Homo sapiens: one gene and its partner. Each later gene encodes a partner of the first gene's protein in a complex. Each region holds a gene or a part of one and is shown in the gene's direction. Other genes may lie near its edges. The genes, in order: USP39 and PRPF3.

Region 1 (3,820 bases):
CCCAAAGTGCTGGGATTACAGGCATGAGCCACCGTGCACGGCCACATTTTTTTAAAAGATGGGATTGTACTCTGTTGCCCAGGCTAGTCTTGAAATTCCTGAGCTCAAGCAGTGTGCTTGCCTGTACCTCCCAAAGTGCTGGGATTATAGATGTGAGCCATTGCACCCTGCTGTCTGGCTAATTATTTTATTTTATTTTTTTGTGGAGACAAGGCCTTATTATGTTACCCAGGCTACAATTTTTTTTTTTTTTTTGGAATATTCTTTAGCTCAAAGGACTTTTTTTATTCCATTTTTTTCTGAAAATTTATCATTTCAACTCATTCACACCAAGCAGATGCCATGTACATAGTATAGTGGAGGATTCAAATGAGGTAAAAACAGCTGGGCACAGTGGTTTACACACCTAATCCTAGCATTTTGGGAGGCCGAGGAGGAGGATTGTTTAAAGTCAAGAGTTCAAGACCCACCTGGCTAACATAGCAAGACCCTGTCTCAAAAAAAGAGATAAAAACTGTATTCTTTGCTCTCGTAAGGAGCTTATAAGGAGTCAAGGTTGACATGTAAAACAACCAGTGAGTTCTGTTAGATCATAAAGATTACTGCTGGACTGTGGCACGGAGTAAAAATAAGTGCAATAGGAGTTGAATGTGCAAAAATCAATGTTAGCTGGAGTGTTTATGTTGAGTTCATGGAAGAGCTGAGGTGGGACTTGAATTGGCAGGACATAGAATTTGAATGGTTAAGGGAGAGAGATTCTAGAAAGGAGTAGCAACATGAAAAAAGTTACATAGATAAAGCATTGTCCTGAATATGGGCATTTGGAAATCCAGGACTGAGTGATGATGGACTGTCATAGGATATGTATGTATTTATGTTTATGTGTATTTATGCACACATATATGCATAGATATTTCTAGTTTCATGTATATAGGAAACTATGTATGAATATATAGTTATATGTATTATATATAGATATATATATAGGTTATATATATTTTACATATATATTAAAAAATAGTGAAATTTGTTTCCCTAATCAATGTCTTAGGCCATTTAGAGAATGAAGTAACTAATGTGCTAGTCTTTCTTGCTAATTTTTTTATGAGAGAACTTCATGTGGAGGATTCATTTTATGAATGGCATAATATTTGTTTTTTGCGGATATTAACATGTTCCGGTAGAAAATAATGAAAGGAAAAGCAAACCTGATCTGTGTGTTCTAGTATCTGCCCTTCTATTACAGCTTTTCACCCTTCCCTACAGGCCGGGGTTTGAAGTCTCACGCCTACATTCACAGTGTCCAGTTTAGCCACCATGTTTTCCTCAACCTCCACACCCTCAAGTTTTACTGCCTTCCAGACAACTATGAGATCATCGATTCCTCATTGGAGGATATCACGGTGTGTGTCTAAGAGGGTTGGTTTGGGGTCCATTCTTTAATGAGCCATCCCAGGGCTCCCAGGGGACTGCCCCACCTGAGGACAGGGAAGAATCTCAGTCCCTTTAGGCATCGAGAGGCTGCTTTCTCTTTTGGGAAGAACTGGGGAAACTGAGTAAGGTCAGAATTCATAATTGCAGCCTGTAGTCTGTAACTTAACTGTCATTTCTACTTGTAACATTGAGGGCTAGGACTGAAGAAATATGGGTGTATTCTGATGGGGTTTAAAGTGTTTTTGTGAAATTATTCTTCTACACTGTGAAGTAGGGATATGAATTGGTCCTGGTGTAGGACAGTATTTACCAAGCTGCACACCGGCTCCTGGCTGCTTTTAACATACGCCGTGGCCAGAGCATCCAGCCACAGATATCTTATCTGTGGGCTCTAGTTTGTGACCTGTGCCAAGAGACACTCATTGTACTGAGCATGGAAAGTCCTCTTGGGTTTGATTAGTGTTGGGCTTTTGATTATTATTTTCCTTTTCAGCACGTGGGGTGTATTCATGGTGCCATGTGCTCTGTTCTTGTTTTTGGTTTTTTTTTTGAGACAGGGTCTCACTTTGTCGCTCAGGCTGGAGTGCAGTGGTGCCATCACAGCTCACTGCAGCCTCGACCTCATGGGTTCAAGTGATACTTTTACTTCAGCTTCCCAAGTAGCTAGGACTGTAGGCGTTACCATCATGCCCAGATACATTTTTAAAATTTTTTGTAGAGATGGAGTCTCACTGCATTGCCTAAGTTGTTCATGCTCTGTTTATTTTTAAGGAAAACGTGGTATTTAGTCTTTGAAATACTGCTTTTTCTACTTGTAAAAGTTGTATAAGCCTATTATTAATAGTTGAGATTAAAATAGTTATGGACAGGCTTGGTGGGGAGGCCCACACCTGTAATCCCAGCACTTTGGGAGGCCGAGGCAGGTGGGTCATTTGAGGTCAGGAGTTTGAGACCAGCCTGACCAACATGATGAGACCCCGTTTCTACTAGAAATACAAAATTAGCCGGGCATGATGGCACATGCCTGTAATCCCAGCTACTTGGGAGGCTGAGGCAGGAGAGTTGCTTGAATCTGGGAGGGGGAGGTTGCAGTGAGCCAAGATCATGCCATGGCACTCTAGTCTAGGCAACAAGAGCAAAACTCCATCTAAAAAAAAAAAAAAAAGTTATGGTCAGTATTTATAGAGGGAAAAACTGGGCTAAATTCAGTGTTTCAAAGTGAGTTTGCGATGATCTCTGTCCAGTCTGTGACATAATGACTGTGGTAACTCTGTGCCTGGGAAGAGTCTGATCCTGCTCTTCCAGTACCAGGGACTCATGGAGATCCTCATTCCCACCCAGAGTGGAGGAAACTCTCCTGCTCCAAAGCTAGGTCCATGTGCTGCTCCCAGGAGGTTCTATCTGAGACTTAGACTGCCTTTAGGAACTTGAGTATTGTATGGTTTCTGGCAGTCAGTTTTCATGAGTTGACCAGACCTGAGGTCGGCGAAAAGACCTGGGATTCAGTGATTTTGGGATAGACACAGAGATCCCCTTGTAGATTAGCCATGGGAGAGGATCTACTCCGTGTTACTTCAATCTTTACACCTACTGGTTCGGACTATTTTTCTGTGTGTGGTGGGATGTTCATGGCCAAGTGTTTTTTGTTTTTGTAGAAATTACTGTTACAGACATTTCTTGTGAACTCAGCTCTTAAACAACTTAGCATTTTCTTTTGCTTTGCAGTATGTGTTGAAGCCCACTTTCACAAAGCAGCAAATTGCAAACTTGGACAAGCAAGCCAAATTGTCCCGGGCATATGATGGTACCACTTACCTGCCGGGTATTGTGGGACTGAATAACATAAAGGCCAATGATTATGCCAACGCTGTCCTTCAGGTAAGATCAAGACGGGAACATTGAGGAAGAGAAGGACACCCAGAAGGCTGAGCACAGTGGCTCACCCCTGTAATCCCAGCACTTTGGGAGGCCAAGGCAGGCGGATTGCCTGAGGTCAAGAGTTTGAGCCAGCCTGGCCAACATGGAGAAACCCTGTCTCTACTAAAAATACAAAAATTAGCTAGATATGGTGGTGGAAGCCTGTAGTCCCAGCTATTTGGCAGGCTGAGGTGGGAGAATCGCTTGAATCCGGGAGGCAGAGGTTATAGTGACCCGAGATCGCGCCACTGCACTCCAGCCTGGGGAACAGTGAGACTCTGTTTCAAGAAAAAAAAAAGAGAGGGACAGGAAATAGTATGTGTACTGGCCAAGAAATTACTGCCTTCGGCCAGGCGCAGTGGCTCATACCTGTAATCCCAGCACTTTGGGAGGCCAAGGCGGGAGGATCACCTGAGGTCAGGAGTTCGAGACTAGCTTGGCCAACATGGAGAAACCCCATCTCTACTAA
Region 2 (3,820 bases), on another chromosome or scaffold:
CCTGAGTAGCTGGCATTACAGGCGCCCACCACCACACCCGGCTAATTTTTGTATTTTTACTAGAGACGGTGTTTCACCATGTTAGCCAGGCTGGTCTTCAGCTCCTGACCTCAAGTGATTCGCCCACCTCAGCCTCTCAAAGTGCTGGGATTACAGGCGTGAGCCACCATGCCTGACCCTTCCGTAATTTTTGAATTTTGAATATATCACCTATTCAAGAAAAAATGTTAAAGACAAATGTTTAAAAATATCTTGAAGCAGTTTAAGAACAGGTCTGTTTTGCAAAATGTAAGAGGAGTTGTTTGGCCATACCCTCAAAGCTTATCATTCTGAACTTCTTTAGGACAGAAGGGGTTTATAGAGACTAGGGAGCAGGTCTTTGCACCATCGTCTCTTGTTTCCCAAACTAGTAGTTCAAGTACTAATATCATGATTTTTTAAAAAAAATTAAGTATAGGCTGGGTGCGGTGGCTCACACCTGTAATCCCAGCACTTTGAGAGGCCGAGGTGGGCGGATCACGAGGTCAGGAGATCGAGACCATCCTGGCTAACAGGGTGAAACCCCATCTCTACTAAAAATACAAAAAATTAGCCGGGCGTGGTGGTGGGCGCCTATAGTCCCAGCTACTCGGGATGCTGAGGCAGGAGAATGGCATGAACCCGGGAGGCAGAGCTTGCAGTGAGCCAAGATCGCACCACTGCACTCCAGCCTGAGTGACAGAGCGAGACTCCATCTCAAAAAAAAAAAAGAAAATTAAGTATAATATTTTGTGTAGGTTCTGTTAGGTTTGCATGCATTATTTAAGTGGTTAACACTAGACCTGTAAGGTAGGTACTGTTTTCTTCCCCCTTCTAGACACTTAGGAGGTTTAGAGACTAAGTTCCTTATCCAAGATAACAAAGGCATTAAGTGGCAGAGTTAAGATTCAAACTCAGGTTTCTCTGACTCCAGAGTCTCAATCATCACACTATATTACTACCTAATATGCTAATCTTGCTTTAGGAACATGGGTTGAAAAATTCCAGTGCTCACTTATCTTGACTAAATTTTTTGCACTGTGGTGCAGGCAGAATGTGGTATAGTCATTCAAAACATTTTAAGTGTCTAGACCTGAGAGCCTTGTGGGTTTAAAAACCTGAATGGGAGAAGTAAGAAGGAGAAATTAACAGTTTTTCAATTTTTTTCCTGGAGAGCAGATCAAACAGATGATGGAGGCAGCAACACGACAAATCGAGGAGAGGAAAAAACAGCTGAGCTTCATTAGCCCCCCTACACCTCAGGTATTGTGTCTAGATTACTCTGAACAGAATAATCTTTGGCACAGAATTTCTTGCCATCCACTCAAAATGAGAGACTAGAAGAGGTGACTACATGTTTCACTTCATAATCATCTGCTACAGTCTACCATGATGTGTGTGTATATCTGTGTGTATGTATGTGTGTTTGTCTGCCTGTCTTAATTCCTCTGATTTCTTTTTCTCTATCTCACAGCCAAAGACTCCTTCTTCCTCCCAACCAGAACGACTTCCTATTGGCAACACTATTCAGCCCTCCCAGGCTGCCACTTTCATGAATGATGCCATTGAGAAGGCAAGGAAAGCAGCTGAACTGCAAGCTCGAATCCAAGCCCAGCTGGCACTGAAGCCAGGACTCATCGGCAATGCCAACATGGTGGGCCTGGCTAATCTCCATGCCATGGGCATTGCTCCCCCGTGAGTGTCTATTTCATGGAATACCTTTTCATTTCTGAAGTTTGAGAAGCAATAAATACCTTTGAATGTTACTGATCTGGCTGGGCGCAGTGCCTCAGGCCTGTAATCGTAGCACTTTGGGAGGCTGAGGTAGGTGGATCACCTGAGGTCAGGAGTCAGGAGTTCGAGACCAGCCTGGCCAATATGGTGAAAACCCATCTCTACTAAAAATACAAAAATTAGCCAGGCGTGGTGGTGCATGCCTGTAATCCCAGCTACTCGGGAGGCTGAGGCAGGAGAATCGCTTGAACACAGGAGGCAGAGGTTGCAGTGAGCTGAGATCGTGCCACTGCGTGGGTGACAGAGGGAGACTCCGGCTCAAAGAAAACAACAAACAAAATATTACTGATCCTCTTTTTCCACAGAACCTAGATCATTTCTCACAGTTTCATATTTCTTAGGTGTGATTGATTAACCAGTTGAATTTTTTCTCGTCTTCCCTGTTGGAGGGTTTATTATCTTCTTATGATTTATATAACTGAGATTAAGGTTATTCATCTAATGTTGGAGCTAGGAGTATAGCCAGGTTTCCTTCCTGGTTTCAAACTCAGATTTATCCATTAAACCACATTGTGTGAGACTAGATCTGAGGTTCCTCTGCAACTGGTCAAAGATGTTACATTTTTTTTAGCATCTACAGTTGGTCTGGCATCCCATGAGTGACATAAGAATTCAGGGATAAGGAAAGATAGGATTATAAATTCATATAATTTATAAACTCATTTCATTTGGTTGTCCTGTATACTGAAATATCCACTTTGATATTTTTAATCAAGATACTATTGGCAGGGCGCGGTGGCTCACACCTGTAATCCCAGCACTTTGGGAGGCCGAGACTGGCAGATTGCTTGAGCTCAGGAGTTCAAGACCAGCCTAGGCAACATGGCAAAACCCCATCTCTCTAAAATATACAAAAATTAGCCAGGCATGGTAGAGCATGCGTGTAGTTCCAGCTACTTAGGAGGCTGAGGTGGGAGAATTTCTTTGGGCCTGGGAGGTTGAGGTTGCAATGAGCTGTGATTGTGCCACTGTACTTTAGCCTGGGCAGCAGAGTGAGACCATGTCTCAAAAAAAAAGATGGTATTGCTCACTGATGAGATTGTTCCCTAGAATTATTTTATTGTCCTTTTTGTTGTTGTTGTTGTTGAGAGGGAGTCTCACTCTGTCACCCAGGCTGGAGTGCAGTGATCTCGGCTCCCTGCAACCTCTGCCTCCCAGGTTCAGTAGCTGGGACTACAAGTGCCCGTCTAAATTTTGTATTTTTTGTAGAGATGGGGTTTCACTGTGTTGCCAAGGCTGGTCTTGAACTCCTGGGCTCAAGCCATCCACCCGCCTCAGCCTCCCAAAGTGCTGGGATTACAGTGTGAGCCACCACACCCGTCCATCCAAATAACTCTTATAGAGAAGGCACTGCAGCCTCAACTTCCTGGGCTCAAGTGATCCTCCTCAACCTCCTGAGTAGGTGGGACCACAGGTATATGCCACCGCACCCAGCTAATTTTAAATTTTTTGTTGAGATGCAGTCTCCTTGTGTTGGCCAGACTGGTCTTTAACTCCTGGGCTCAAGTGATCCCTCTGCCTTGGCCTCCCAAAATGCTGTGGTTCCAGGCTTGAGCCACCACGCCTGGCTTTATTTTGTTTTTTGCTTGCCTTAATGTTCCATACAGGATTTATTTCTTTGCGGGCTATTTTTCAGGAAGGTGGAGTTAAAAGACCAAACGAAACCTACACCACTGATCCTGGATGAGCAAGGGCGCACTGTAGATGCAACAGGCAAGGAGATTGAGCTGACACACCGCATGCCTACTCTGAAAGCCAATATTCGTGCTGTGAAGAGGGAACAATTCAAGCAACAACTAAAGGAAAAGCCATCAGAAGACATGGAATCCAATACCTTTTTTGACCCCCGAGTCTCCATTGCCCCTTCCCAGCGCCAGAGACGCACTTTTAAATTCCATGACAAGGGCAAATTTGAGAAGATTGCTCAGCGATTACGGACAAAGGTATCTGGCTTAGAGTATAACACAGAATTTGGAAAAAGTTAAGAAGCTGACAAGAAAACATTGTT

Evidence for each region.
Region 2: USP39 (region 1) and PRPF3 share a complex: the UniProt entries of both Homo sapiens proteins name them as parts of the U4/U6-U5 tri-snRNP complex.

What each region holds. Positions count from the first base shown.
Region 1 is NC_000002.12:85,622,380-85,626,199, forward strand, and holds part of USP39 (ubiquitin carboxyl-terminal hydrolase 39), read left to right. Parts: intron 1-1,246; coding exon of another isoform or gene 1,247-1,266; coding exon 1,267-1,403; intron 1,404-3,159; coding exon 3,160-3,312; intron 3,313-3,820.
Region 2 is NC_000001.11:150,331,487-150,335,306, forward strand, and holds part of PRPF3 (U4/U6 small nuclear ribonucleoprotein Prp3), read left to right. Parts: intron 1-1,197; coding exon 1,198-1,281; intron 1,282-1,492; coding exon 1,493-1,713; intron 1,714-3,448; coding exon 3,449-3,755; intron 3,756-3,820. UniProt on the Homo sapiens protein: Plays a role in pre-mRNA splicing as component of the U4/U6-U5 tri-snRNP complex that is involved in spliceosome assembly, and as component of the precatalytic spliceosome (spliceosome B complex).